Linked DNA regions of Homo sapiens. The protein of the gene in region 3 purifies or fractionates together with the protein of the main gene of each other region. This does not show direct contact. Each region holds a gene or a part of one and is shown on either strand. Other genes may lie near its edges. The genes, in order: STK26, GSPT1, VBP1, TTC33, MALT1, SUPT6H and SGF29.

Evidence for each region.
Region 1: the proteins of VBP1 (region 3) and STK26 purify together in Homo sapiens (affinity purification with mass spectrometry; 2 studies listed by BioGRID and IntAct, with this or other methods). This does not show direct contact.
Region 2: the proteins of VBP1 (region 3) and GSPT1 purify together in Homo sapiens (affinity purification with mass spectrometry; 2 studies listed by BioGRID and IntAct, with this or other methods). This does not show direct contact.
Region 4: the proteins of VBP1 (region 3) and TTC33 purify together in Homo sapiens (affinity purification with mass spectrometry, with the first as the bait; one large-scale study listed by BioGRID). This does not show direct contact.
Region 5: the proteins of VBP1 (region 3) and MALT1 purify together in Homo sapiens (affinity purification with mass spectrometry; one large-scale study listed by BioGRID and IntAct). This does not show direct contact.
Region 6: the proteins of VBP1 (region 3) and SUPT6H purify together in Homo sapiens (affinity purification with mass spectrometry; 2 studies listed by BioGRID and IntAct, with this or other methods). This does not show direct contact.
Region 7: the proteins of VBP1 (region 3) and SGF29 purify together in Homo sapiens (affinity purification with mass spectrometry; 2 studies listed by BioGRID and IntAct, with this or other methods). This does not show direct contact.

What each region holds. Positions count from the first base shown.
Region 1 is NC_000023.11:132,071,700-132,075,821, reverse strand, and holds part of STK26 (serine/threonine-protein kinase 26), read right to left. Parts: intron 3,555-4,122; coding exon 3,461-3,554; intron 3,010-3,460; coding exon 2,947-3,009; intron 2,866-2,946; coding exon 2,729-2,865; intron 1,688-2,728; coding exon 1,663-1,687; 3' UTR 1-1,662. UniProt on the Homo sapiens protein: Serine/threonine-protein kinase that acts as a mediator of cell growth. Modulates apoptosis. In association with STK24 negatively regulates Golgi reorientation in polarized cell migration upon RHO activation.
Region 2 is NC_000016.10:11,909,130-11,913,251, forward strand, and holds part of GSPT1 (eukaryotic peptide chain release factor GTP-binding subunit ERF3A), read right to left. Parts: intron 1-4,122. UniProt on the Homo sapiens protein: GTPase component of the eRF1-eRF3-GTP ternary complex, a ternary complex that mediates translation termination in response to the termination codons UAA, UAG and UGA.
Region 3 is NC_000023.11:155,222,613-155,226,734, reverse strand, and holds part of VBP1 (prefoldin subunit 3), read right to left. Parts: intron 1-4,122. UniProt on the Homo sapiens protein: Binds specifically to cytosolic chaperonin (c-CPN) and transfers target proteins to it. Binds to nascent polypeptide chain and promotes folding in an environment in which there are many competing pathways for nonnative proteins.
Region 4 is NC_000005.10:40,724,682-40,728,803, forward strand, and holds part of TTC33 (tetratricopeptide repeat protein 33), read right to left. Parts: intron 3,796-4,122; coding exon 3,664-3,795; intron 1-3,663.
Region 5 is NC_000018.10:58,674,335-58,678,456, forward strand, and holds part of MALT1 (mucosa-associated lymphoid tissue lymphoma translocation protein 1), read left to right. Parts: intron 1-3,275; exon of another isoform or gene 3,276-3,312; intron 3,313-4,122. UniProt on the Homo sapiens protein: Protease that enhances BCL10-induced activation: acts via formation of CBM complexes that channel adaptive and innate immune signaling downstream of CARD domain-containing proteins (CARD9, CARD11 and CARD14) to activate NF-kappa-B and MAP kinase p38 pathways which stimulate expression of genes encoding pro-inflammatory cytokines and chemokines.
Region 6 is NC_000017.11:28,665,032-28,669,153, reverse strand, and holds part of SUPT6H (transcription elongation factor SPT6), read right to left. Parts: intron 622-4,122; exon of another isoform or gene 524-621; intron 506-523; exon of another isoform or gene 1-505.
Region 7 is NC_000016.10:28,588,052-28,592,173, reverse strand, and holds the end of SGF29 (SAGA-associated factor 29), read right to left. Parts: intron 3,075-4,122; coding exon 3,010-3,074; intron 2,079-3,009; coding exon 1,949-2,078; intron 1,879-1,948; coding exon 1,732-1,878; intron 1,544-1,731; coding exon 1,508-1,543; exon of another isoform or gene 1,503-1,507; intron 1,402-1,502; coding exon 1,239-1,401; intron 1,134-1,238; coding exon of another isoform or gene 1,122-1,133; exon of another isoform or gene 585-1,121; coding exon 468-584; 3' UTR 384-467; downstream 1-383. Other genes in the region: SULT1A2 (sulfotransferase 1A2), read left to right, coding at 34-146. UniProt on the Homo sapiens protein: Chromatin reader component of some histone acetyltransferase (HAT) SAGA-type complexes like the TFTC-HAT, ATAC or STAGA complexes.

The DNA.
Region 1 (4,122 bases), about 23 Mb from region 3:
AATTGTGTTGTAAAGTTTCAAATAATCAATTTATAAATTTGTTGCTTTTACTTTTACAAAAATATTCATTTAACCCATAACATGAGTTGCAAAATTATCTCCAGACTTCTACAGATGATTATAAACTGTAATTGTGTTTCAGTTACACAGCAGGTGAAAAATTTAACTGAACCGTTACTTCAAAATACAATGCATTAAAAATAATTGTTACAATATAGGCACCAATAAAAAGAATTTTCTTGGCATACAACACCACAACAACTTTCTCAAGTATCTGTATTATGTAAATTAAAAAGAGGATGTAATGGCCACTTTGACTAAAAACTGTATTCCTTACAGGAAGAATATCTTTCTTTTAATATTTGACAATTACTCAGATTTTTTTAAATGACTTTTGTGCAAAAACCAAACTGTGCAGATCCAAACAATTAAACATTAGCTATCAAAACTAAATATCAATAATTCTACAACTACTGAAATACAGCCCCAGTTCAGAACTTAGGCAGGCATAATATATGTACTGGGCTTAAAAGAAAAAGGCATCACCCACATAATAGTACCATAAATATAAGTGAAAATTAACTGTGCAATCTAATTTAACCTTTGTGTGGACAGAAATCATCCTGTACTATGGTTATTTTCATATGAACTAGAAAATGCTCACTTAAATATCCTTTTAAAAACAACAAACTGATGCTTATTAGTGATAATTATGAAGAACAAAAATATATAAATAGTTTATAGGACAATTTATTACCATGGCAAAAATATGCTGATTTAAGTTATATTCATACCTGTTGATCAGATATTTAATCACATGACAATCAGCTTTATTTTTTGGCTCTCCAAATCCAAGCAGATAGTATGGGATTTTAGTTGAAGATGTAAAACATGAAGCCAGACTAACTCCTTCAACATTACCAAACACCTATCCTTGGGTAAATGATCTTGCTTTAAATTTCTAACCATGTGAAATAAGGGTAAAATTGCCTCTTCTACCTAAAAGAGAATGTAAATACTATACACCAAGAGGTACCTCTGTTGCTGTACATTGCCTGTAAATGCTTCAAACACAGGGTCTCAAATGTGATAATCATTGAGCTGCCTGGAATATCATACCAACTTGGTAGAAGAGTCAATACTTTTACAGGTTTCATTTAAAAGACTTTACTTAAATTTTCTGTTTTAAGAAGGTATGACTTATTTACACCTCCCCACCAATAGTCATTTTTAGAATATGCATGTTTTTTTTTAAAAAAAAAAGCTTTTTGAAGCTTGATAATTTACAAAAGCTGAATATTGAGAATGACTTTGAAAGACCTGTATGTTTCATGACTGTAGAGTCAACTAAAGATCAAAATGTGAAAGGTATTCATCCTCGTAACTTAAGAAATAGGGATACTTAAAAGCAAAACGGTGTCTCAACATTTACTAGAATACAGGTGAAACTATAGTATTAAAAGTTATTCCTTACAAAATAATCCTTTCAAAATATAAAATGATAAACGCCATCACAAAATAGTTTAATAGCTTCTTCCAAATCTTCAGTGTTGCAAAGATCCAAAAGGCACATGGAGCTCATGGGTTAAGCATTGTTAATCTTGACGTAGGTTTGGTGGGGCTCTCTGGGTCCATATGAAACAGAAGCCAATAATAAGTTTCTTAGGGGGATTCGTCTGCTGAACACCTATAAAATTTTTAAAAAATTTAAACCAATGTACAACTATGCATGTTTATATTTCTCCTTTGTATGAACTCTGCAATGAAGAAACTGATTCCACAAAAGGGATACATTGTTTCTATTGAATCTTATCATGTAGATGTTAAAATATAAACAAGTTAAAAAATCCCTTCTGCATCTGATTTCACAACTTCCGATTGATTTGTTTTCAAATGGGGGGTTTTCATTAAAATATAAGGGATTTTAAGAGGGGGTTAGGTTTGCGAGTACAAGTGAGCCTTATCAGATAGAAAGATCTTTGAGAGTGTGTGATTTCACAGGTCACAGAGTTTGTTCCATCTCGATCCCAGTGGCATCACAAACACAAAGAAATATAAAGATGCACTGAGAAGAGATATAGCAGGGTCAAGGCTAAAATCAGTATCACCTTATAGCTTGCTTGAGCTAAGGAGTGTATATGTGTGCATGCATACAAAAGTCTTGTTGAAAATTTTTTAAAAAATTAAATGTAAGAACTTTTTTGAATGCGAACAAAATCAAATGAATATTTCAAGAGACAACATAGAAACTGAAGTTGAACATAAGAGCCCTTTTTTGGTCTGGATTGAGTCCCTCTACCTTTTCCTTAACTTTTCATATGGAGATCAAACGTAGGAACTTTAGCACTGGAAACTATGCAACTAGTGGTGTTTTGTTAAATTCTGAGGGTAGTGGCAAGAAAGAAAGCATTCCACAATTATATTAATAAGAGCTCAAATGAGAATATGCTCAGTGACCTTTTGTCTATAATCCTACTAGTGGAGAAAGAAAAACAGGTCATTTCATGCAGTGGAAAACTACCTTGTCATGCCTAAAGATAATCATTCTAAAAGCTAATGTTTAAGATAGACAACAGACAAAAACTATTTTTAAGTATACAACTATGTATTGAAAGGTGACTTTGTTAGGAATAATTGGAATGGTTGAATCAAAGGAATTACATTGCATCATAAATTAACATACAACAGAAAATGCAAAATAATTTTTAAAATGACATTTCCAACTTACTTTTGAAATTTTTCAATTAGTTTCTTCACCATTTTATCTGTGATGCCGGGACAGGCGGCTTCAGCCACAGCAATACTTTTCTCGAGTTCTTCAATCGCCTGATTCCTGCTAGCGTTATTCTCGTCCTGCTGTTTAAGCTGAGAAAGAATAATAGTTAAAACATTTAAAATATTATACTACTTAACACAGATATCCAAGGCTAATTAATCTGTACTTACTTCAGCAAATGCAGGTGTGATTATCATAGACAAACAACTCAGGGTTTGCACAAGATCTTGCTCCTTTGAACAAATAATATAGATTATACACATGAAATTAAAATAAGTGTCATGATTTTCTTATTCTTTAACAAATACGAACTAATTTGAATCCCCTACTGAAAACAAAAGATTGTATGCAAGGCAAGTCTCTAAGCTTTCTTCCTATCATTCATTCTCATTCATCATCCAGAAGTCCTCTAACTTCTGGGATTACAATAGATACCTATGATTCCCTGGGCTTATGTATCTCCAGGTGAAATGCACTTAAAAAATACCAATATGGCCACTTAAATAACTTCTATTAACTTTTCTTAATTAGCTCAAAACTAATGACAAATGAAGCATACTACAAACACAGTGAGGCAGACAGGCATTTAGGGGTATTCAATCCTAACAATTTTAGGCCATTATCATCTCACTACATGGTTTGAAAAACTGTATGAAGAGTAAGTAATTGTCTCCATATACATACTGCCCCATTCTGTACTTTCTTTGGATCAGGCTTCTTTCGTACGGTGGTAAAGCTCCATTCAGGATGAGTATTGTTTTCCCTGCTGGTAGATTCCCTAAAGAGATTGCCAAAGATACCTCTATAAGTGCCCAAATGATTCAGCTTGGCAAAAATACCAAATCAATGCAGGTAGAATCTAAAGGGATAATTGTCCCAATGTTTAAAAACTCATGATGCAAAAAAGCATCTGATCTCAGCTTCAGGCGAATACTACATTTTACTACAGAGTAGTAGTGGAGTGGTTCTCAACTCTGTGTGTGCTTCATTGAGACCTCCTACCATAGATAAATACCTGTCCCTCACTACTCCCCACCTATTGAATCAGGATCTCCAGTGGTGTGGCTTGTGATTGCTTTAAGGTTCCATGAGTGACTCTTATGGGAAGCTAAGGCTAACACCCATTAGAATAGGGCACAAATTATTCTGATATTTTTTATCCCTTTCCAACATTGGACAATTTCTCATAAATGGAAGAATCTCAGAGTAGTATCTAAAGAAATTTGGTGTTGCCTTTGTGCCAGTTCAGCTGGTGGAGGACTAAATTCTGGCATAGCATACAGACTTTCCTAGTCTAAATTAATTGACAGACTTAGAGGCTGAATTTTTAATGTAAACGCTGCTGT
Region 2 (4,122 bases), on a different chromosome or scaffold from region 3:
TGGGAATGTGGTTTGGAAGTGAGTGTCACCACTGTTAGGTCAGGTGCTCGGGAAAGCCTTATTAAGTGTTCTTCTCTCTTTGAAAGTAGAATTATGATGGGAAACTGGTTCAACTTAGAGTACTGTAACAACTAGGTTTCCTTAGAACAAAGCCATTTACGAAGGAGCCATATAAATCTACAGTCTCGGCTCACTTTGTTAAACTCTACTGAAAACAAGGCAGAAACTTCTAAGCCTTGAAATGAATCAACAATCAACAGCTAAAAACTGTCAGTTTTCTTGATTGTTCTGAGGACCTCAGATCCTTCAACTAGTAGCCAAATTCTTGTCTCCCGAAGATATTTTAAAACCAAGGGTAGAATGATGAAATTCTAAACATGCCCCAATAGACACACTAGCCAGACTCATAGTAACTGAACTCACTGCTGTTTAATACGAAATAGACAAGTACTGTAAAAAGATAACCAGTGCTCTACCTTCAGCACTCTCGACAAACTTAAAAATACAAAACTTGGCCAGGCACAGTGGCTCTCGCCTGTAATCCCAGCATTTTGGGAGGCCGAGACGGGTGGATCACTTGAGGTCAAGAGTTCGAGACCAGCCTGGGCAACATGGTGAAACCTCATCTCTACTAAAAATACAAAAATTAGCTGGGCGTGGTGGCGGGCACCTGTAATCTCAGCTACTTGGGAAGCTGAGGCAGAACAATCGCTTGAACCTGGGGAGGCAGAGGTTACGGTGAGCCGAGTTAGGGCCACTGCACTCCAGCCTGTGACAGAGCGAAACTCCATCTCAAAAAACAAAAACAAACAAAAAAACTTAGCCAGGCGTCATGGTGGGTGCCTATAGTCCTAGCTACTCAGGAAGCTGAGGTGAAAGATCACTTGAGCCCAGGGATTTGAAGTTACGATGAGCTATAATCACACAATTATACTCCAGCTTGGGTGACAAAGTAAGATCCCGTCTCTAAAAAATAATAAGTAAAAAGTTTTTTAAAATACACACAACCTTGGTGATCAGGCTTTGGCTGCAACTCTGGCCCAGGAGGCCAGAAAAAAAAATACACACAAGGCATTCGCAAAGAACAGTGAGCAGATAATAGATAAATCTTTAGTTTTATGAGAGTGACAAGACTGAGAGGTTTTACGTAAGGGATTGCTGTTCTCGGCTTTGAAAGCCTTCTCTACACTCTCTGCAGGGCTCACTTACCACACTGTGACTTCCACTAGAGTACACTGGGCATCTGATCCCTTTCTAGATTCCTTCAGGACCACAATTTATTCATCTTGGTGTTATTTCAAGTGCCTAGCATAGCATCTTTCATTCAGTGGACTGGTAAATGTTTGTTAATGAGTCGCTAGTACATATATCTGAGCAAAACCAGAAATTCGCATTTCTGGAAAAAAATTCCATTCCAATACTGCTAACTCAACCCAGAAGGTTATCAAATCTCTTTTTCATTCCTTTCTCTTCAACCAGAAAGAAAATACTATCTGAACACTTTCAGACATTTCTTCCCCAGCAAACCAAAGCAAGCAAATCAAGGCTTAAACTTTGTCGTCTACATTACTTCCTTAACTTGTTCAAACTGAAATTGCTGTCTTTTCACGCTGTGCAACTTCAGAAAAGGTAAAAAATAAAGAACAGAAGAATGCAATAAGATATGTACTGACAGCACTACGTAATACCTGCTCCAAAGAGGGTTTTTACACCAGTCAAAAATTCTAACAGTTTAAACAACTGCTCAACTTGGCACAGCACAGCCCTAGATGATGCCTTCGCTTCTTCCCTAAATCCTCAGTCTCAAGCCATTCATACGTGTAAAACCATGAAACAAGAGACAAAAAGGTCAGCCATGGCAGGAGAAGTAACGAAAGGCAGTGTTTACTACTGTGATACTCCAGGGATACTGTGGGGCCTCTCCTCTACCCCATCTGCTGTCCCACTGAAGCCTAAAAACACCTTTATATGAGCACTGTTCTTGCAGGCACTTCAGTCTCAAAAACACATTCTCAAATACAGAATCTTACCTATTATCTACCTCAACAGATAGAATTTAACATATTAATAAAGTGTAAGGGCCTTTCTGGATTAAACAACCATTACTTTGATTTGGAATCCTCTCTACTCTGGTGGCCCTGAAGAGGTCACTTCTGAGATGTTCCAGCTTAAAACTGAGAATATTCTAAAAAGCATCTGCCAAGTGGTGATGGTTGCATAACCTTACAAATATATTAAAAGCCACTGAACTGTATGTACACTTTACTTTTCTTTTTGGACAGTGTCTCATTTGGTCACCCAGGCTGAGTGCAATGGTGCCATCATAGCTCACTGCAGCCTCCAGCTCCTGGGCTCAAGAGATCCTCCCACCTCAACCTCCCAAGTAGCTGGGACTACAGGTTTGTGCCACCACACCCAGCTATTTTTTTTTTTTTTTTTTTTTGAGACAGAGTGTCAATGTCGCCCAGGCTAGAGTGCAGTGGTGTGATCTCGGCTCACTGCAACCTCCGCCTCCCAGATTCAAGTGATTCTCCTGCCTCAGCCTCCCCAGTAGCTGGGACTACGGGCGCGCACCACCATGCCTGGCTAATTTTTATATTTTTAATAGAGACAGGTTTCGCCACGTTGGCCAGGCTGGTCTCGAACTCCTGACCTCAGGTGATCCGTCCACCTCGGCCTCCCAAAGTGCTGGGATTACAGGCATGAGCCACTGCACCCAGCTGTATTTTTTTTTTTTTTTTTTTTTTTTTTTTTGTGGAGACAGGGTCTCAGTCTCACTATGTTTTATGGAGGCCTCAGGCAATCCTCTCACCTCAGCCTCCCAGAGTGTTGGGTTTATAAGTGTGAGCCAATGCGCCCAGCTTGTACAGTTGAAAAGGGTGAATTTTACAGTGTGTAAGTTAAATGTCAATCATTTAAAAAAAAAAAAAAAAAAGGCCAGGCGCGGTCACACCTGTAATCCCGGCACTTTGGGAGGCCAAGGCGGGCAGATCACCTGAGGTCAAGAGTTCAAGACCAGCCTAGCCAACATGGTGAAACCCCATCCCTGCAAAAACACACACACACAAAATAGCTGGGCATGATGGCAGGTGCCTGTAATCCCAGCTACTCGGGAGGCTGAGGCAGGAGAATTGCTTGAACCTGGGAGGAGGAGGTTGTAGTCAGCCGAGATCGTGCCATTGCACTCCAGCCTGGGCAACAGAGCAAGACTCCGTCTCAAAAAAAAAAAAAAACAAAAAAAAAACCTCCTCTTCCAATAAATAAGGCATTCAGCAAATACGGAACACTACAAAACAGAATGTTTCTCTTTAAAATTCAAGTTCCACAATACAATCTGCTAAGTTTTGGAGACAGTGCCTCCTCCAAGTAAGTACTGAGGGCTGCTGGTTTTATTCCATGCTTGTTTCTTAATGGCAGTGAGTTCTGAGAAGCATTAAAGGTGGGATGATGCAAAGAACACCACATCATTACTTTAGAAGCTCTGGCTGTTCTAAAAAGTTCAAGTAACCCTAAAATTACTAAACCAGTTTCTTATCTAACAATAAAAAAAACTAGGTGCAAATTGCAACTTAAATACATCCTATCAGATAAAATGCTTGTTCTAATATACATTAAGCCTTGTCTTCTATATTTTTATTCACTTGGGGACCTCACTTTTTAAGGAGAATCTCTTGGCCAATTTACTTGGCTCTAGAGAACTGTGCTTAAATGAATTACACTTAATTACACTTAAATGGGTTCCACTTAATTATTTCTTAAGGAACCTATATTCTTTAGTTTTCAAAGAGATCCAAGGTCAATACTGAATCCCAAGGTCTGACTCTCCAGGCTCCTTCAACAGCTTTCCCGGCATGCAGTTTAAAAACACACCCAGCACAAATTTCGGCTATGGCTTAACTAAAGAACAGAACATGCTAGCCCTATTGTCCACTTCCTCGCTATCAAAAAAACCTTGCAAACTTTTTGGTTCCCCCTTTGTAAGTTCCAATCCAGGTGTTATTTCCTATTTATCCCCCTGCTTTTTATAAGCACTGATTGTTCTCCGATGCTGGCTTTTTATGGACTTAATAGTCTGGAACATGCAATCCAACAGTCTCAATATAACCCTGGACCTCAACTTAG
Region 3 (4,122 bases):
CCTATCCAGTGATGCACATAGCTACTCCTGGTGTGTGCATTGGGTATACACACATGTACATCACAGTCAGCTAAATGCCAGGCAAAGCACAGTGACACCTTCTCAGTATGTGCACTTGTCACACTGTGAAAAATGTACAGAATCATCTGAATGCCAAACACACCACATTATGATACAGTATAATTTAGTGATTCTTTTAAGCTTTGGGTATTTCTTCCTTAACTTTTATGTTGATAAATGCTCTTCTTTTCAAATGAGGTAACGATCGTTCTTAAAATTATAAATGGATCACTGATTTAAACACAAGAAATTTAAAAAAACAATGATGGACATGATACAACTGATCCGACTTAATGGATAAGTTATATGATAGCTACTAGCAAAATGCTAGTAAGTGACTCCCAAATGCAATCAACCTCACTGACAAGAACATAAGAGAAAAACAGTATGCTAAAAACATTCAGTCAATTAAAGAGAGAAAACAATGATACCGTTTTTGTCACTGGGGTTTAGCTCTTTATGGTAATTAGATGCATGTGTTTTGCATGGAGATATATGCAAAACAGTTCTAGGGTCTCTGTCAAATGTAATTTCTAGCAAAACAGACTAAGGATATAAAAACGAAGCTCTGGTTCTTTCGAGGTAAATTTACTAAATATTATTAGAGACCAAAATGTAAACAAAATATAAACACAACAATGAAAATGAACTTATTGCGTCACATAAAAGAAGTCACTCCATGTGTGCAGCAGGTTGGCAGGGCAAATTTACTACACCCTGTGCTACTGACCTGGCAAGAAATGTGTTAAATGAGCCTGCTGCTTAAGAAAAAAACATAGTGTCATCATTTGATAATACAGTCCAGTGAATAATCTAGAAACACCTAGCATTCATTTTTTCACTACAATTCAATCTGGATGCCATAGATTGCTCAAGTTTGCTTATTTTTGCATGATATGTTCATATAGGTAAACAGAAAGATGTTATACATTTGTAAAATATGTGATACACACACAACATAAGGAGTATGTTCAGATCAAGATTTTTTGTCATGTAAATGACTTTTAAGATGCATTCTGTATATATAAATATTATATGTAATATGCTATAAAGCATATTAATGAATCAATCAGATGCAGCCCTAGCTAACTTAGGAACCAGACCACCAATGACACAGCACATGCCCAAGCAATACACTCCTCCCTACCCTGCTTCACCTGAAGAGAAAGTAGCTTGGCTGGGCACAGTGATTCACGCCTGTAATCCCAGCACTTTGGGAGGCCGAAGCGGGTGGATCACCTGAGGCCAGGAGTTCGAGACCGGCCTGGCCAGCATGGTGAAACTCAGTCTCTACTAAAAAAAAATACAAAAAAATTAGCTGGGCGTGGTGGTGCATGCTTGTAATCCCAGCTACTTGGGAAGTTGAGGCGGGAGGATCCCTTGAATCCAGGAGGTGGAGGTTGCAGTGAGCCGAGGTAGCGCCACTGCTACCCACCAGGAGTGACTTAAATTACCCCCACCTCCACGTACATTACTGGCCAAAGTAGCTGATATCCCTGAGGGAATCTAAGCTGACAGGGAAAAGACATTATAATTTGATCATTATAATAAATAAAGACAATAAATTCAACAACCTCTACCATATGAAACAAAATTAACAAATACCAAAAGATAAAACTATACATTAAATACTTAAAGATACCACAAAGAGAAAAGAAAGGATATTGGTAATATGAAGAGGAACCAACCAGAACTACCAGCTATAAAAATCTTAACAGCTGAAACAAAGAACTCATGGCTATCCATCTAATTGCCAAAAGATAAATGACAAAGACAGAAAAAAGGGAAATAATATAAATAAATGGAAGGCAGAATTAGAAGTGTCAACATCTGTAAACAGGAATCCCAGAAAGAAAGAGGAAAAAAAATTAACAGACGATAGAAAAAGTGATAATCACAAAATTTCCAATTAAAGAAAGATAAAAGATCTCAGATTCAAGTGTCGAAAAAGAGATTAACACATGAAATACTAAGGAACTTTTACACAGCTTGAAGGGTAAAGTTAAATGACAGGCTGCAAGATTTACAACACATACAAAGAAAAAGGCTAGCCTCACCCTCACCCTCGCCCTCGCCCTCTTTGCATGGTCTCCCTCTGATGCCGAGCCGAGGCTGGACTGTACTGCCGCCATCTCGACTCACTGCAACCTCCCTGACTGATTCTCCTGCCTCAGCCTGCCGAGTGCCTGGGATTGCAGGCACGCGCCACCACGCCTGACTGGTTTTCGTATTTTTTTGGTGGAGACAGGGTTTCGCTGTGTTGGCCGGGCTGGTCTCCAGCTCCTGACCGCGAGTGATCTGCCAGCCTCGGCCTCCCGAGGTGCCGGGATTGCAGACGGAGTCTCGCTCACTCAGTGCTCAATGGTGCCCAGGCTGGAGTGCAGTGGCGTGATCTCGGCTCGCTACAACCTCCACCTCCCAGCCGCCTGCCTTGGCCTCCCAAAGTGCCGAGATTGCAGCCTCTGCCCGGCCGCCACCCCATCTGGGAAGTGAGGAGCGTCTCTGCCTGGCCGCCCATCGTCTGGGATGTGAGGAGCCCCTCTGCCCGGCCGCCCACTCTGGGAAGTGAGGAGCGCCTCTTCCAGGCCGTCATCCCGTCTAGGAAGTGAGGAGCGTCTCTGCCCGGCCGCCCATCCTCTGAGATGTGGGGAGCGCCTCTGCCCAGCCACCCCGTCTGAGATGTGAAGAGCACCTCTGCCCCGCCGCCACCCCGTCTGGGAGGTGAGGAGCGTCTCTGACCAGCCACCCCGTCTGAGAGGTGAGGAGCCCCTCCGCCCGGCAGCCGCCCCATCTGAGAAGTGAGGAGCCCCTCCGCCTGGCAGCCGCCCCGTCCGGCAGGTGGGGGGCAGCCCCCGCCCGGCCAGCCGCCCCGTCCGGGAGGTGGGGGGGTGCCTCTGCCCGGCCGCCCCGTCTGGGAAGTGAGGAGCCCCTCTGCCCGGCCGCCACCCCGTCTGGGAGGTGTACCCAACAGCTCGTTGAGAACGGGCCATGATGACGATGGAGGTTTTGTCGAATAGAGAAGGGGGAAATGTGGGGAAAGGAAGGAGAGATCAGATTGTTGCTGTGTCTGTGTGGAAAGAGGTGGACATGGGAGACTCCATTTTGTTCTGTACTAGGAAAAATTCTTCTGCCTTGGGATGCTGTTAATCTATAACCTTACCCCCAACCCCGTGCTCTCTGAAACATGTGCTGTGTCCACTCAGGGTTAAATGGATTAAGGGCGGTGCAAGATGTGCTTTGTTAAACACATGCTTGAAGGCAGCATGCTCGTTAAGAGTCATCACCACTCCCTAATCTCAAGTACCCAGGGACACAAACACTGCGGAAGGCGGCAGGGCCCTCTGCCTAGGAAAACCAGAGACCTTTGTTCACATGTTTACCTGCTGACCTTCCCTCCACTATTGTCCTATGACCCTGCCAAATCCCCCTCTCCGAGAAACACCCAAGAATGATCAATACTAAAAAAATTAAAAAAAGAAAGAAATAGGCTGAACTCACTTATGAACAGAAATTCAAAAATCCTAAATAAAATAATAGCAAATTGAAAAAAAAAAAAAACAAAAAGGCTAGCATGTAAACTACATAGAGCCATCTGCTGCAAAACAACTAGATCATGACACAAAAATAGTTTTGTTGCATAGCTGACATCATAGGAGTGAGAGAAATTCCAGAAAAATAAAAAGAGAAAAGTAGCCCTCCAACTACTTGGGAGGCTGAGATGGAAGAATTGCTTGAACCCAGGAGGTCAAGGCTGCAGTGAGCTGTGATCACACCACCGCACTCTGGCCTGGGCAACAGAGAGAAAGCCTGTCTCAAAAAAATGACCAACCCACTATTAAAATAGGTAAAACTCAAGAAAATTTTCCTAACTCACTATCTCCAACTCTACCATTCTCTTTTAAAACACTAGACAAACACTGTTCTCATCCAGAACACCAACGTTCACTGATGTTTCCTAAGTGCTTTGAATTTTTACCCCTTCTCCCCACATTTAGGCCTAGACCATATGTTAAGCTAGAGTGAGTATCCTGCTACATACCACAGTTGTAGAGTTAGCAATAT
Region 4 (4,122 bases), on a different chromosome or scaffold from region 3:
TCATAAACAAACTTTATTTTTCAAGAAAAAAACTCAATTCTTAAGTGTCAACATACAACATTTATAAAGACTATAATTCAAGAATTTGTACTATTCAATTATAAAAAAGATAATGCAGCTTGACTCAAACAATGTCTACAGTAATTAACTAAACTAAAAATTTACAAGTGGATTTTTTTTTTTTTTTTTGAGATGGAGTCTCACTCTGTCACTCATGCTGGAGTGCAGTGGTGCGATCTCAGCTCACTGCAACCTCCACCTGCCAGGTTCAAGATATTCTCCTGCCTCCTGAGTAGCTGGAACTACAGGCACACACCACCATGCCTGGCTAATTTTTGTATTTTTAGTAGAGACGACGTTTCACCATGTTGGCCAGGCTGGTCTCAAAACTCCTGACCTCAGGTGATCAACCCACCTCAGCCTCCCAACATGCTGGGATTACAGGCATGAGCCACCATGCCCAGCCAAATTTTTTTTTTTTTTTTTTGTAAATATAGGATCTTGCCATGCTACCCAGGTTGGTCCAAACTCCTGGCCTCAAGCAATCCTTCTGCCTCAGCCTCCCAAAGTGCTGAGATTATACGCGTGAGCCAGGATGCCCAGCCCCTCAAGTGAAATTTTAAAAACTCTCAATCATCTTCCTTTTGTCTGGAAATTATCACTTGTCCATCCCATTACTACCATTACAAAAGCGAAACAATAAAAAGAATCAAATGATGCAACTGAAATTTCTAATTAAAGATTTGCTCATGCAAAATATTAAAACCAATGGCTAAAATGAGACTTGGAAAACAGAGAAAACATTAGTAAACAAAATTAGTATTTATTGCACATTGGCATGAAGAAAAGCAAAAGCTGGCAATGAATTACACAGAGCCCGAAGAAGGGAAGCCACAAAGCTAGTTCCAGCACTGAAGGCTGAGAACCCTGGAAAGCCAACAGAAGAATCCTTCCTGATACTGTTACCTCCTGGTATTCATTACCTTTCCCAGTCTCCTTCCCTCTCTACCTTCTTCTTCAGGATAAATCCCTTATGTATTCCTTTCTCACCATCCCCATTCCCTCATACAGAATTTTTAACTCCCAGAACCATTCTCTTCAGCTTTTTTTTTTTTTTTTTTTTGAGACAGGTCTTGCTCTGTCACCCAGGCTGGAGTGCAGTGGCGCGATCTCAGCTCACTGCAAGCTCCGCCTCCCAGGTTCACGCCATTCTCCTGCCTCAGCCTCCCGAGCAGCTGGGACTACAGGCGCCCGCCACCACGTCCAGCTAATTTTTTGTATTTTTAGTAGAGACGGGGTTTCACCGTGTTAGCCAGGATGGTCTCAATCTCCTGACCTTGTGATCCGCCCGCCTCGGCCTCCCAAAGTGCTGGGATTACAGACTTGAGCCACCGCGCCTGGCTTCAGCTTTCTTATTCTCTCATCCTTCCACTTCTTAAAATCTCATTCTCATAAAGTCTTTTATATATATATATATATACACACACACACACGTATATATATATAAAATGTATACCATATACATACATATTTTATATATATATATCTCCTATAAACATTTTCCAATGTTCACATCCAACTCTTACAAAGTTTAAATAATTATTCATGGAGATATACCCAACTACTGACTTTTAATTTACTGCCTGTGCTATTTACATACATAATTTCCTATGGTTTTAGTCCATATGTATATATAGTAAGAATTGTTAGATATTAGAAATTCTAGCTTGCTTTCAATATATTTTACATAGTGTCCCTTCGTTATGACATTTTGAGTCATCTTTTTTTTTTACCATTCTAGTCTTTTAAGAGAACAGCTTAAATCTACATAAAAACAGAGAAGATTCCTAAAAATTACATTTAAATGGCAAAAAAAAAATACTTTCAATTCTTCTAAGAATTTCACAGTATTAATGAATAGAGCCATATCAACAGAAAAAAAAAAAGTCGAACTGGTACTCTTATTCAAAAAAATTTAAATATTAAATTATTTTTATTGGATGATTCAAAGTATCTCCGTCTCACCTGCAGTGTATTTTCTTTCTTTATAAAGGACAATCTTTACTAAATATTATGTCCTAGAGATTTGTTCCATTACCATAGACACTATTGGCAAAAGAGATAGTGATGTATAAATTTTTAATAAGGGAGGCAAGGAAAAAGTATTATATGATAGGGTTTTCTTCCCCTGTTAATGTTAGAAAACTAAATTCTTTGAACTCTTTTTTCCAACTCTGGTATGATTTAAGTCTTCATGTAAAAAGAGAGAAGTTGACAGTGCTAAATGGCAAGAAAAAAACAGTACTTGGTTAAAATGGTTTCTATCACTGTGAATCTCATTTAGATTATCATTAACTTACTTTAATCAAATCAATTATTTTCTCATACAAATTCCTTACTATTTCTGAGAATTTGACAAACACCTTTTTTGGTAAGTAGAAATAATGATACATTTATAAGAATGCCAGAAAAAAAGCTCAGTCATCCACAATTTACTAAAACCACTGTTAGTAAGTTTATATTTTGAATTTATCAGTAATTTTAGTCTTGCAAGAAACTTTTAAAATGTTTTATTTTGAACTGTAAAAAATAAAACCATTTTTAAAATCTTAATTTACTTAATAACAAGGAGGAAATTTGGCACTGTATATTAGATTTGCAAACACTTGTTAGGAAGTTAAATTTCGTTAGCTATCAGGTGTATATAGCCCTGCCAAAAGAAAAACAACAGGACAGCTGTCACAGCTAATTCTTACCTAGATAGCCTCTGCTACTAACAAGGTATAGTCCAGACAAATTGAGAGATGCATTAGGTACCAGTTTACGGTAAACATTACACAATGAGTATTTCATTTGCACACATTTCTACTCTTCCTCTTTATCCCCTCAATAAGCCTAACAACTTTTCAGTCTAAATGTTCATCACCATTACCCTCCCATATTCTACTGTCTTCCTTCCCCTGTATAATCTATCAGCGGTTTTGTCTCCACAGTGATACTAATACCACTTTATAATGTGGTAAATGTAATGATCCAAAGAACTAAGCCAAAAAGTTGCCTATTGTCTATTTAAATAAGGTTTACCAAATGCCAATGTTTTATGTTAAATTTTTTTTAATATCCATGATGTCAAGTAACTGAAAAATATTCTGATCATGATATAATTAGTGTCTATAATAAAAAAGATGTTCAGTAATACCTGTGAACTGTGTTTATGGATTAATACCTTTAAGAAGTAATTTGCTAATTGTTTTTTGTATAGACTTGATAAACGGCTATTCACTTTTGGGTTCAGTTAATCAAAAATATGTCAAAATAGACTGGGCATGTTGGCTCACGCCTGTAATCCCAGCACTTTGGGAGGCCGAGGCTGGAGAATCATTTGAGGTCAAAAGTTAAAGACCAGCCTGACTAACATGGTGACACCCCGTCTCTACTAAAAATACAAAAACATTAGCCAGGCATGGTGGCGCATGCCTATAGTCCCAGCTACACAGGAGGCTGAGACAGGAGAATCGCTTGAACCCAGGAGGCGGAGGTTGCCGTGAGCTGAGATTGCACCACTGCACTGTACCCTGGGTGACATCAAGACTCCATCTCAAAAAAAAAAAAAAGTCAAAATATACTTAAAATTTCTGCATTATAATAATCTGACTTCCTCACCAGGATTATCTCTCCTAAACCAAGTTGAGCACGTCCCAAAGTCTGCCAAGACTCCCATGAATGTGGATTTTGCTGGACGGCCATTTCTGCTGCATGTACTGCTGGGAACATTTCATGAAGAGACATTAGCACCTATAGGCAAAAAAAGACCAAAAAATCTGTCAGTAATATTCATAAACTAGCAACTACATAAAAAACCCTTTTCATTTTTTAAGATATATTTTTAGTCCAGTAAAAATAGCATTTCGGTGATTTTTACCCCTTACTCTGCCATTCAGGGTAAGAAATTATAGTTCTCTTTTCACCCCTTATATAACTATGAAAATGTAAACGATTCCCTTTCCAGTTATTGAATCTTATGTCCATCTGGTCAAAACCAAGTGGTCATATCCTAACTATGGTGGCTCAGAGGTATTTTGAACTCCCAATTCCACTTCCATTTATTCTATTTACAATGTG
Region 5 (4,122 bases), on a different chromosome or scaffold from region 3:
CAGAGAGAAGGGGACAGTTGCCTAACAAGAGGTGGCAAGCACAAAGGGCATGCAGTTGTGGAATCTGAGAATTTGGGGTGGGAAGTCTGATGAGAGGCAGATGAGTTTCACCTGTCTTTCAAGATGGTAAAGATTAGTTTTGAGGAGGTTGGCTGGGGTGAGAAGGGTTGGAGAATTTGGGAACGTTAAGCTCATCCCTATGGAGATCAGAAGAATTAAACGGACTTTTTTTCAAAAAACAGCACTGGGAGCTTGGGGGCTGGACAGTGAAGCAAGGTCAGCTGGGGATGCTTACTCTATTTAAGACAAAAAAGTTATTGTAAAGTGATTTCATGCTGTTGGGAGAAGATCTGTGATACTAGAAGGTCCTAAAGGTATTTTTTCTCTGGTGCCAAAGACAGGAATTATAGTGTGAGTGTCTAGTCCGTGTGGGTGACAAGTCCCACGAGGCTGTGAAGTGCTTTCTTCAGTCACTGGATCTGCAGCCCTAGAATCTCGAAATGTTGCCCATTCTGTTTCTTTTTCTTCTCTTCACTTTTTTTTCTGACACTTTACATCTTTCCTCAAACTGGGTGAAAATTTAATAATACAAATAAGTAAACCACAAGAAAAGAGCCCGTTCAAACTGTCTACAAGAGATTAGAAATAATTGTAAATGTTTTCATTGCTGATGACTCAGAGTAAATCCTTGTTGATAGCTTAGTTCCCCACAACCATGTACATTTGGGAATGTGCTATAGTCAGACCCGGCCCTGATTCCATTCAAGACTGACCTGGACACCCTTTGCTGTTAGTGTAGATAGACACAGACTCTGAGGGTCTTGCCCAAGCTATGTAAATTCTTTGGTGGCATGGAACATCTGAGCCCTAAGGATGGCAGACCTTCCAGGAGGTTCTAAATGCTGCCTAAAATTCTGTTAAGTAGGGAGCTTAGAAATGGGGCTGTGGAACCTGGACCATGGAAAAACAGTCATTGCATACCTGCTGAGTAGAAGGTGCACTTTTAGCTGCAGAAATCCTGCTTTCATGCAGTTTATTATAGGAATGAGAACGTGTAAAAGGCTCTAACAGAAGGTTTCCTCCCAGCCTGGGAAACATACTGAGACCCTGTTTCTACAAAAAAACAAAAAATTAGCCAGGCATAGTGGCACAGGCCTGTAGTCCCAGCTACTCTGCAGGCTGAGGTGGGATTGCTTGAGCCCAGGAGTTCGAGGCTGCAGTGAGCCTCAACAATTATTATTGAAATTCATTCAGTAATCATTCATTTATGAATAATTAATATGGACAAGACAGAATTTTATTGATTTAGGTATTGTCAACCTCCAGCATGGTCGACAGAGAAGACCTTGTCTCTAAAACAAATAAACTAAAAAAGGTTTCCTTCTCGCCCTCTTGGTCTTATCCTTCAGTCCCATGACTTTACATTTATTTGGGTTGATTACTCCTAATTTCTATTTCCAGCCCATTTCTCTGCTTTGAACTCCTAGATTCACGTATGTAAACACTTGTTTGCCATCTTCTCTTGAATGACTAAGACACGTCTTAAATATAACATGTCCAAAATTTAACACGTCTTCCCTTATAAACCTCTTTCTTTCAGTTTCTGCACCCTCTGGTTGTTCAGTCCAAAAACTTCGAATTCATTCCTGACTCCACTTTTACACACAAATCGTTTTTGTCAGCCCATCCTTCCTGCTGTACCTTCACTATATATATGTAGAATCCAATGTCCACTGCTGGCACGCTGGGCCAAGCCACGTTGTCTCTCAACTAGATTATTCCAGTAGCCACTTAACTTCTCCCTGTTTTGCTTTGCTCCCACCCCAGTCTGTTACCAATATAGCAGTAAGAATTATTCTTTTAAAACATCACATCAGGTCTTATTCCTCCTCTGCTCAAAACTCTCCTATTGTGGCCAGGCGTGGTAGCCTCACACCTGTAATCCCAGCACTTTGGGAGGCCAGGGTGGGAGGATTACTTATGCCTAGGACTTCAAAACCAGCCTGAGCAACATAGATAGACCCCATTAAAAAAAAATGCCAACTCTCCTATTGTTTTTCCATCTCAGAGTAAAAACACCATTAGCTACCAGTTCACTCTTCAACCTGATATCTTCTTGTCTCCATCCCTCTCTACTCTGGTCACATGTGCTTTCTTGCCTTCCTTTGGACACAGTAGTCTTTGTACTTGCTGCCTACTCAGGCTGAGATGGTCTCCACAGGTAACCACATGACTTGTTCACCTCACTGAGCTCTTCTCTGATCATAATATTTAAAATTACCCTCTACATCTGCTCAGTGTTACCTGTCTACTTGCGTTACCTCCACAACACTTAAGACCATTGGTTAGTTGGATACATACACAAAAAGATATCTCTGTGTTTATTTAAATTTATGTCTGTACTTCTCTAGAATGAAAGATCCAGGAAGATACAGAATTTTGTTTTGTTTGCTGCTGTATCCTCAACACCTAGAAAAAACAGTGGCCTATTTTAGGTGATGGAGAAATAGATCAAATTAATGAATAAAGATTCCAAATAGTAAATGTACCAAGAGGAGAAGCAGAAGAACCTAAAAACAGCATTATGGTTTGTCCCCTAAAGGGTGTATAATACATTCTATTTGATTATATATTTTTTTAAAGATAAAAATAGAGATATTTTTAAAAAGTAAAGTACATTTGTTTCAGTCATAAAGCAGTTTTTAAATTAAATCAAAAATTCTAAATTAGGACTTTCAGAAACTACTTCAAAGCACACTCTTACAGGAATGTAACTTAAAAAGGAAAGAAAGAAAAGTTAGGTATGTATAAGCATCATCTTAGCTGAAAGCCAGTGCCCATACGGAAAATCAGTAAAAACAAAAAGAGATACAGAGTCTTCTTTTTCTCCTGTGCCTCTTGTAATGGAAGAGAAATCATCTGTACTTCAATTTGATCTTTGTTCTTTTGGGGGGGAAGGAAAGCCAAGTGTTTTTAATTTTCTCTATATCAATATAGACATTAATTAAAGCATCACTTGGTTGCATTTGATGAGATGGCTTCTTAATTTCATTTATCAGATCCTGGTAAACTTCTGAATCATAAAAATTATATTTAGCATACAGCATCCCTATTTTTACAAATCTCATTCTAATTATTTACAAAATTAGTAATCCTTGTATTGTTTCTAATACAGGTTCTTTCACTTGGGTATTTCAGAAACTAGTAAAATAAAATTTCACAAAATAAGAGCACTAACAGGCAGCTTCACCTTTTTATGTTTTCTGTCATCATAGTCACCATTGTTTCTTAAAAGAAAGAACACTTTAACACCTAAAAATGGAAAAGACAATTTTAGAATAAAAGACAGCTTTATTGTCCTTATTTTTATCATTTTACCTTGGACTGCAGATTGTGCTGCCACTGGTCTACAGTCCAGAATTTGAGACTGGTTGACTTGTGATATGATGATTCACATTTAACAAGAATGGCATATTGAATATAATAAAATTGAACTAGGATGCTTAGAAAAGAATACCTAGTAAATATAGTGATCACAGGAGGCCTTAGAGGACATTTTCAGGTTACCAAAATAATAGTTACTCAAAAAAATGTTTAAGGAAAAGCTAAAATTGTTTCAGAAATAAGCATAGTTAAGAAGTTAGCTTTAATATTCTTTTAATATCCCCATATTCTTATTGCATAATAAGAGCTAACCTTTATTGAATGTCTGTTACTTGCCAAGCACTGTGTTAAGCACTTCTTACATGGATTAGCTATTTAATTCTAACAACCCTATGAGGTAGATAATATTACTAATGAAATTAATTTGATCGTATACATTTTTTCCATATGAAATAATCAACATTATCACTGAATTTTAAATCTTGGGTAACAGTATAAATGCTATGACAGCATCTTCATAAGACTACTCAAAATGAATGAGGATTAATATTTCAAGCAATAAAATAGTTTGCTAACCTTGATTCTGTCACACCCTGGCACTATTATGTTTCACCTCTTGCATCTGTTCAGGCTTTCAGCCTTGACAATTATGATTGAAATTCATTCAGTAATCATTCATTAATGCATAATTAATATGGACAAGACAGAATTTTAGGTATTGAGGGATTTTATGTCTGC
Region 6 (4,122 bases), on a different chromosome or scaffold from region 3:
TTTAAAATAAATCAATAAATATTTTTAAATGTCTCACTGAGTTTTAATTTCGAATCTGGTAAATATCAAAGGATATAACTCACATAAACAAAATGTCTTTGAAGTCCTAAATAAGTTTTAAGAGTATAAAGGGGTCCTGAGTCCAAAAAGTTGAGGAGTGACTGTAAAGACCCTAAAGAGATGCGGTATAGTAAGCCTAGGGGTTAGGGTGATGCTCCCCCATGACCCCAAGATCTCTATCCTTAAGGTCATTTAGCTTGAGCACTGCCAAAAGTGAAAGTCTTAAACTTCTGCCAATTAAATCTAGAGCTCTAATTTTAATTTTGACATTGCTCCCCCTCAGCCCTGAACTGAGCCATTAAAAACAGATTTGAGTACGGCAGCCCCCACACATAGCTTGTTCTAATTAGGCTATCAGACCCACAAGTTCAATCTTTTAAGGCCTCAACATCTTCAAATTAAATGCCAGCTCCTGCAGACCAGATGCCCCTCAGCCTACTTAACAGAGAAACACACAGCCTACCTGATGAAAACAACAGCTTTCTTCTGTCTCAAGGGCAGCTGGTGCTCCATGCTGCACACAGCTTGGAAAGATAGCTGTGTTCTCTTTCTTCCCATCGCCTAGGTTAGCAATAAAGCACACACTATGCTATAGCTGGGGAATGCCTCCAATCTAGCTCAATACCAAGACTTCCAGTTATAAGAGGTGTGCCAGAAGCAATTCTGACTTGCTGCAACTTGCAGGAGCTAGATGTGCAGACTGCAGTAGCACTGCAGTCTGAGACTGACAAGCGGGAACTACTCTAGAATAAAGACACTAATGTATTTATTTGTGTATGATTATTATTAATACATGGTATCTATGATGAGCCTGATGTAGTTTGGATGTTGTATTTAGCACTTATGCTCTTAAAATTTTCCCCATACTCACACTGTAAGTTAAATTTGCAACTGGAATAGGTCTAGAAGGGCAGTGGGGAGATGGAGGGAGAGGTTTCTCTAGTCAGAAGCACAGCTGCAGAACAAGATGTGGCTCAATGGGAGAGGCTGGTGGTTACCATGACATTCGCTGGAAGAGGAATGGAACTGGGATCAGATTGCCACAAGGGAGGCCCTCTGCAGTCCCTCCCTTTGAACAAGAAGTTGTAGTAGGCAATTAAGAGGAGACCAGAGTGAAAAGAGATCTAGTCTGTTAATTCCTTCCACTTTGCAGCTTCAATTAACATTTGCTGGGTTTTTTTTTTTTAGAGTCAAGCTCTGTGCTGGGACTTGTGTATATAAAAATGAGTAAAATATGCTTCCTACCCCGGTGGAGTTCACAGTCTTGGTGGAGTTCACAATCTATCTCAAAAAACTTGTTAATAACGTTATGACAAAGCACAATAGGGTTATGTTAAGTTATATAACTGGACTATGAGAGCAATGGGAAGGTTGGGGAATATCTGAGAAAAGGTGATGCCTGAATAAAAGAGGATTTAAGAAAACAGTCTGGAAAAAGGCAACATGAGCAAACATTTAGGCGTGGTGCTCTGGAGAACAGCCCCAGAAGTCTAGGGTGGAGTTTAAGCTACAAGACATTCCATGTTGTCTTGTATCATATATACATATATATATATAAAACACACACACACACACGTATTTATATATATATACACATATACATATATACACACACATATATACACATATACATACATATGTATACACACACACATACATATATATATATATATATATATATATATATACACACACACACTTTTTTTTTTTTTTTTTTTTTTTTGAGACGGAGTCTTGCTCAGTTACCCAGGCTGGAGTGCAGTGGCATGATCTGGGCTCACTGCAAGCTCCGCCTCCTGGGGTCACGCCATTCTCCTGCCTCAACCTCCCAAGCAGCTGGGACTACAGGTGCCCACCACCACGCCCAGCTATTTTTTTTTTTTTGTATTTTTAGTAGAGACGGGGTTTCACCGTGTTAGCCAGGATAGTCTCAATCTCCTGACCTTGTGATCCGCCCGTCTCAGCCTCTCATAGTGCTGGGATTACACTTGTATCCTATATTTTATGGGCAAGGGACTAGGACTATTCCAAAGGTATCCATAAGTGAATATCCAATTTGGAATTTCAAAACCTAAAAGTTTAATAGATAAAAGTATTTAGAGTCTACTTAAGTCCTTTTAAATCTGGAATTCAGAAGGCTTTGTAATTAAAAAAACCCTGAAAACCTAATTACATGAAGTCAAGATGTTAAAATACAGAAAAAGTTAATTTTGTTCATTTAAAAATATTATTTATTCGGCTGGGCGCGGTGGCTCACGCCTATAATGCCAGCACTTTGGGAGGCTGAGGCAGGCTGATCACTTCAGGTCAGGTCAGACGCTCGAGACCAGCCTGGCCAGCATGATGAAACCCTGTCTCCACTAAAAATACAAAAATTAGCCGGGTGTGGTGGTGCACGCCTGTAATCCCAGCTACTCAGGAGGCTGAGGCAGGAGAATCGCTTGAACGTGGGAGTCAGAGCTTGCAGTGAGTCGAGATCATGCCATTGCACTCCAGCCAAGGTGACAGAGCGAGACTCCGTCTCAAAAAAAAAAAAAAAAAAAGTATTCCTTTTCTTTCCACATTTCTTTAGAGAAACAGGGTAAGGGCTAAAGAAGAGTACAACTGAAATATGTAACCAGATTCAGAACCCCTGCAACACAAAGAGAGATTAACAGTTACTGAACCTTGTGGTACACACATTGAGGAGCGCATAGTTCCTGCTCTAGCACAGGGGTTGGCAAACCTTTCCTTTTCTCTATAGGGCCAAATCTGCCACTGTAGCACAGCATACATAACATGTAAATGAATGGGGGTGACCTTATTTGGCTCACAGGCCTTAGTTTGTGACCCCTGATTTAGAGAATTGATGATAAGAATAGCATGGGATCCTGTAATAAGACAACCTAACCTGGTTTTGAGGAAGTGACTTTAAACAAAGACCTTAAGAGTAAGGAGGAATTAGTTCAGCAGAGGAGCTGGCTTCTTTGGAGATGGTTTGGGGAGTGATGTCAGAGACGTGTGCTTCTAGCACAACACGTGTACTGTGGCAGGTACAGAGAAGGCCCAGGAGAGGAAGAATGGTTCATAAGGGTTGGAGAAGTCATAAGGATCTAGGCACTGGGAAGCCATTGCAGGGTTTTAAATGTAGAACTGAACTTAATCTACTTGCTAATCCAACAAAAACTTATTATTTTCTGAGATGGGGTCCTGCTCTGTCACCCAGACTGGAGTGCAGTGGTGTGATTACATCTCACTGCAGCCTCCACCTCCTGGGCTCAAGCCATAATCTCACCTCAGCCTCCCAGGTAGCTAGGACAAATACATATACATATACATATACGTTTTTTTGAGACAGAGTCTCGCTCCATTGCCCAGGCTTGGAGTGTAGTGGCACGATCTCAGCTCACTGCAACCTCCGCCTCCCAGGTTCAAGCAATTCTCCTGCCTCAGCCTCCCAAGTAGCTGGGATTACAGGCACCCACCACCACGTCCAGCTAATTTTTTCTTTGTATCTTTAACAGAGACGGGGTTTCACCATGTTGGCCAGCCTGGGCTCGAGCTCCTGACCTCAGGTGATCCGCCTGCCTCAGCCTCCCAAAGTGTTGGGATTATAGGCGTGAACCACCATGCCTGGCATAAATATGTATTTAATGAGTGCCTACCACATGCCAGGCACGTACAAGACTAGGTCCATGCCCCTAGGATGCCCGTATTCTGGTGCAGGAGACATATTGGCAACAAATAAAATAAACCTTGCTCTAAAAGCGAAGAAGGAAATGCATATTCTCATCTCATCTAAAGTGAGTTTACTTAGGCTGAGATGTCAATAGGTAGGATATGACCTGTAGAAGTAGGAGGAGAGGTTCCAGTAGAGAAAGTGGGCAAGAACATGGTATATAATAGGTGATGTCCTGAGGCTGATGGCACTAGAGCATGGTGAAGGCAGCAGCCTATGAGGGAGAGGTATGCTCAAGCAGGGCGTAAAGGCCATGGAAAGTCACTGGAGAGTTTTAAGTAGGGAAATGACATGATCTGCCCTGATCCAATTCTGTTACATGGAAAATGAACTGGAGGAAGATC
Region 7 (4,122 bases), on a different chromosome or scaffold from region 3:
ACTCCAGCTTTGCTCCCTGCCTTCCTCCCCCAGGCATGGCTGGGGACTGGAAGACCACCTTCACCGTGGCGCAGAATGAGCGCTTCGATGCGGACTATGCGAAGAAGATGGCAGGCTGCAGCCTCAGCTTCCGCTCTGAGCTGTGAGAGGGGTTCCTGGAGTCACTGCAGAGGGAGTGTGCGAATCAAGCCTGACCAAGAGGCTCCAGAATAAAGTATGATTTGTGTTCAATGCAGAGTCTCTATTCCAAGCCAAGAGAAACCCTGAGCTGAAAGAGTGATCGCCCACTGGGGCCAAATACGGCCACCTCCCCGCTCCAGCTCCTCAACTTGCCCTGTTTGGAGAGGGGAGAGGGTCTGGAGAAGTAAAACCCAGGAGACGAGTAGAGGGGGAATGTGTTTAATCCCAGCACGTCCTCTGCTGTCCTGCCCTGTGTCGTTGGGGGATGGCGAGTCTGCCAGGCGGCATCACTTTTTCTTGGGTTCCTTACAAGCCACCACGTATCTCTGAGCCACATTGAGGGGAGGGGAATAGCCATCTGCATAGGAGGTGTCTTCAAACAGGACCGAGTAGTCATCCTGGGGCTGTGGGGCAGGCAGACAGGAGGGGCTGCTCAGAGACCCCCAGGCCAGGACAGGCACCCCCTTCCCCCAGCCTAGACCACAGGAGGCTCTGGGCCGTGGACTCTCAGCCACTCCTAACATCCTTCACTCTGGGGTCAAGAAGTCTTGGCCCAGTCCCTGCTGCTACAGAGCTCTTTTCTCAGTGGCTGGAGACCCAAGGCAGGGAATAGGCAGGGAGGAGTAGGGGTGCTGACTCCCTTCCTAGTGGGGTCATAGCTGGAGGGTCTGCTGCCTTTCAAGGACTCTTTGTTGAGAGGACTGAGGGCAACCCAGAGGGTGGCAGGCAGGGATCCTGGCCTCAGGTGGCTTGTGTCCCATGTCACCAAGAGCACAAGGCGGTAGGAGCCCAGGGCTCAGGGCAGGAGCTTCCCATCTCGGAGCTGGTTCTCCTGGGGCTGGAAGCCACTGACTCGGGGCTTGCCAAGGCTGCCAGGGCTGGCAAAGGGATGGTGGCCTTTGGGGCTGGAGTGGAAGAGGGAGGGCAGCTGGTGGGTCCTGTCAGCTTGGAGCCTGTGAGATGAGGACAAAGGGAAGGAGTGGGGAGAGGACCCCTCGTCTGTCTGATCAGCCTGTTCCTGACATCACCCATGGCCTCTCCCCTGGAGGCTGCTTTACCCGCTGTGGGGGCGCATGGATCAGGGCGCGGTAGAAGCAGGTAGTCTGGGGATACAGGGCCAGCACGAGCTGCTCCTTCTGGAACAAGGCCTCAGGGTCCGTCTCCGGGTTGGCCTTCCACTGGGGCAGCGGGATGACACGGCGCCGGCTCAGGGTGTGTCTCCTGGGGGAAGAGGGGCTTATATCAACCTGTGGCCGGGTGGGGATGCTCCTTCTCAGCTGTTAGGCTGCCCCCAGGCTCCATGCCCTGCCCTGGCCTGGACACTCACTCTTTGCCTTCTTCATCGATGTCATCTACCTCATACCTGCAGACAAAAGGAGGAAAAGGCTGGATGCAGCCAGGGGCGCAGTACCTGTTGGGGAGTGAGGATGGGGGAGGACCTGGTGCTCCCTGCACAACCAGCCTCTGGGGAGCACCCTCTGCAGAGCTTTTCTCCCGTAGCCCAGGCAAGTTCGGTGACCAGAGAGCAGCCCCAGGGTTGGTGTCACTCACTTGTTGGTGGCATGGCTGTAACTGACCACCTCGGCCAGGATCCACTGCTCGTCCCCATCCACGGCCTTCACCCGGGCAGCCACCTTGTCTCCAGGTCTGGCCACGTAGTCTCCTGAGGCAGGGATGGCCCCACAGAGGGGTGGGGGCCTGTGAGTGGAACAAAGGGTCAGTCCCAGCCCCTGGGCACCAGCCCCTCCCTCGCAGCTGCTGCCCTCACTTGTCACCAGGCTTCCCGATCCACAGGGGCAGGGTCATGGCCGACTGCTGCAGCAGGGTCATCAGCACCCCTCTGCGCATGGTCTTCCGGGGTGGCTCCGAGTCATTGTAGAGACCGGCAATCTTGGCCGCTGTGGGAAGGAAGGGAGGCCTGAGGCCCCAGGGATAGGTGCCGGCCTTGACCCCCGAGCATGCTGCACTGAGCTGTTGAAGGAGCACCTGGGAGCCCCCAGTTCCCGAGTGAGCCCGAGGGCCCAGCAGGACTGTGACCCCATCGGCCATGTGTCAGCACCTATAGGGGCTGCTGGGTTTAACTACAGTTGGGTGAGATGGCAGCACAGCGGGGATCCAGGGGGAGGAACCAGAAGAAAGAAAGCGGGTTCCAAGGTGCTGTTCAGGCTGTGTTTGCTGATCTGAATGCTGGTTACAGAAGTGTGTTCAGTTAGTGACTATTTCATTGAACTCTGCACTTATGTGTACTTTTCTTCTATTAATATACATTGTAATTCAACAGAAAGTTAAAAAAACCAAAAAAAAAATTAAATGTGCACCTTCAACCTCCTCAGGCACAGCTGGACACCCCACTTGACTTCACACAGAACCAGCATGGCTGTGTGGGGACACTGACATGCCAAGATTCTGCCCACCATGGGATTGTTGGGAGGGCAGACAGGTAGGAGAGCCTAATGCAGGCTGAGGGGGTCTGGAAGGCTGGCTTTACGACACACAGCGTGTGGCTCTGCAGAAACCAGCCAGGGCAACAGATGGGCATGGGCCATGGCAGAGGAGGGGGCGACTGGCCCAGGCCCCAGAAGGGGCAGGAGATGAGGGGCCAGGGCGGGATGATCTCTGGCTGCTGAGGGAGAACTGGGAAACCCCTGCCTCTGGGCACTGGGAATGACCTCCTGTCCCTTCTCAGTGGTAGAGCCAGTCTGCCAGAGCCTCCATGGGAGGATGCCAGCAGGTGGTGGCCACAGGCCCCCACAGGAGGGTGACTGCTGCCCGCAGGGCCTCTCCTCTTGTCCTAGCAAAGGACCTCCCAGCATGTTCTCTCCCACTCACCAATCCGCCTCTCTTCCAACAGAGACTTGATTTCCGCGATCTTGTCCAGAGCTTTCCGAAGGATGCTGAGGGCGGGGAGAAGGGAGAAAGAGGGTTTGGTTAACGTACATAGCATAGACTTCTCTTCCATTTTTTCTGTTTTGGGTCAAGCTACATTGCCCAGGCTGGTCCCGGACTCCAGAGGTTCTCACAGTAGCCTCCTGCGCAGGTGGAATGACAGGTGTGTGCAGGTTCCTGTTCTGGTCAAGGTGGGCTGGGTTATTCAGACCAACCTCATGGTGAAACTAGAAATCTGCCCGGGTGTGGTGGTTCACGCCTGTAATCCCAGCACTTTGGGAGGCCGAGGAGTGTGGATCACCTGAGGTCAGGAGTTCAAGACCAGCCTGACCAATATGGTGAAACCCCGTCTGTATTAAAAATACAAAACTTAGCCAGGTGTGGTGGCGAGCGTCTTTAACTGTAATCCCACCTACTTGGGAGGCTGAGGCAAGAGAATCGCTTGAACCTGGGAGGCAGAGGTTGCAGTGAACCGAGATCGCGTCATTGCACTCCAACCTGGGCAAAAAGAACGAAACTCCATTTCAAAAAAAAAAAGAAAACTGGAAATCTTCAGTATGTGTCTTTTAGTCTTAAGAACATAAAAAACAAGGTGGTAGAAAGCAGCATGCCAAAAACTAAGAGAACACAGGATCCCAGAGAGGAAAGGACACAGGCAAACTGCCTTCGGCAAACCCTGCAGAAAGGCTGCAGGAACCTCCTGAAATGAGGAGAGGGGGCCTCAGGTCTGCCCGAGGGTCACACAAAAGGAGGGGAGACTCTGGGGAGAGGTGCTGGCCCAGAGCAGAACTGGGTGGAAGGACCTCATCCTTTCTGAAAGGCTGAACCCAAAGACAGACCCCTGCATGGCCTTGAAGCCCCAGGAAGCCTCTGTGAAGTTAGTTTATGGGGATTCCAGGGTGGCAGGAACCCAAAGAACCCAGCAGAAGCAAACACAGAACTTGGCTGGAGTGAGGCTCCTTCATCCTAAAGCTCAGGGAATCTTCCCAAAGAGTATTTCCACAGCAGGGATGGGTGTGGTGGCTCACGCCTGTAATCTCAGCACTTTAGGAGGCT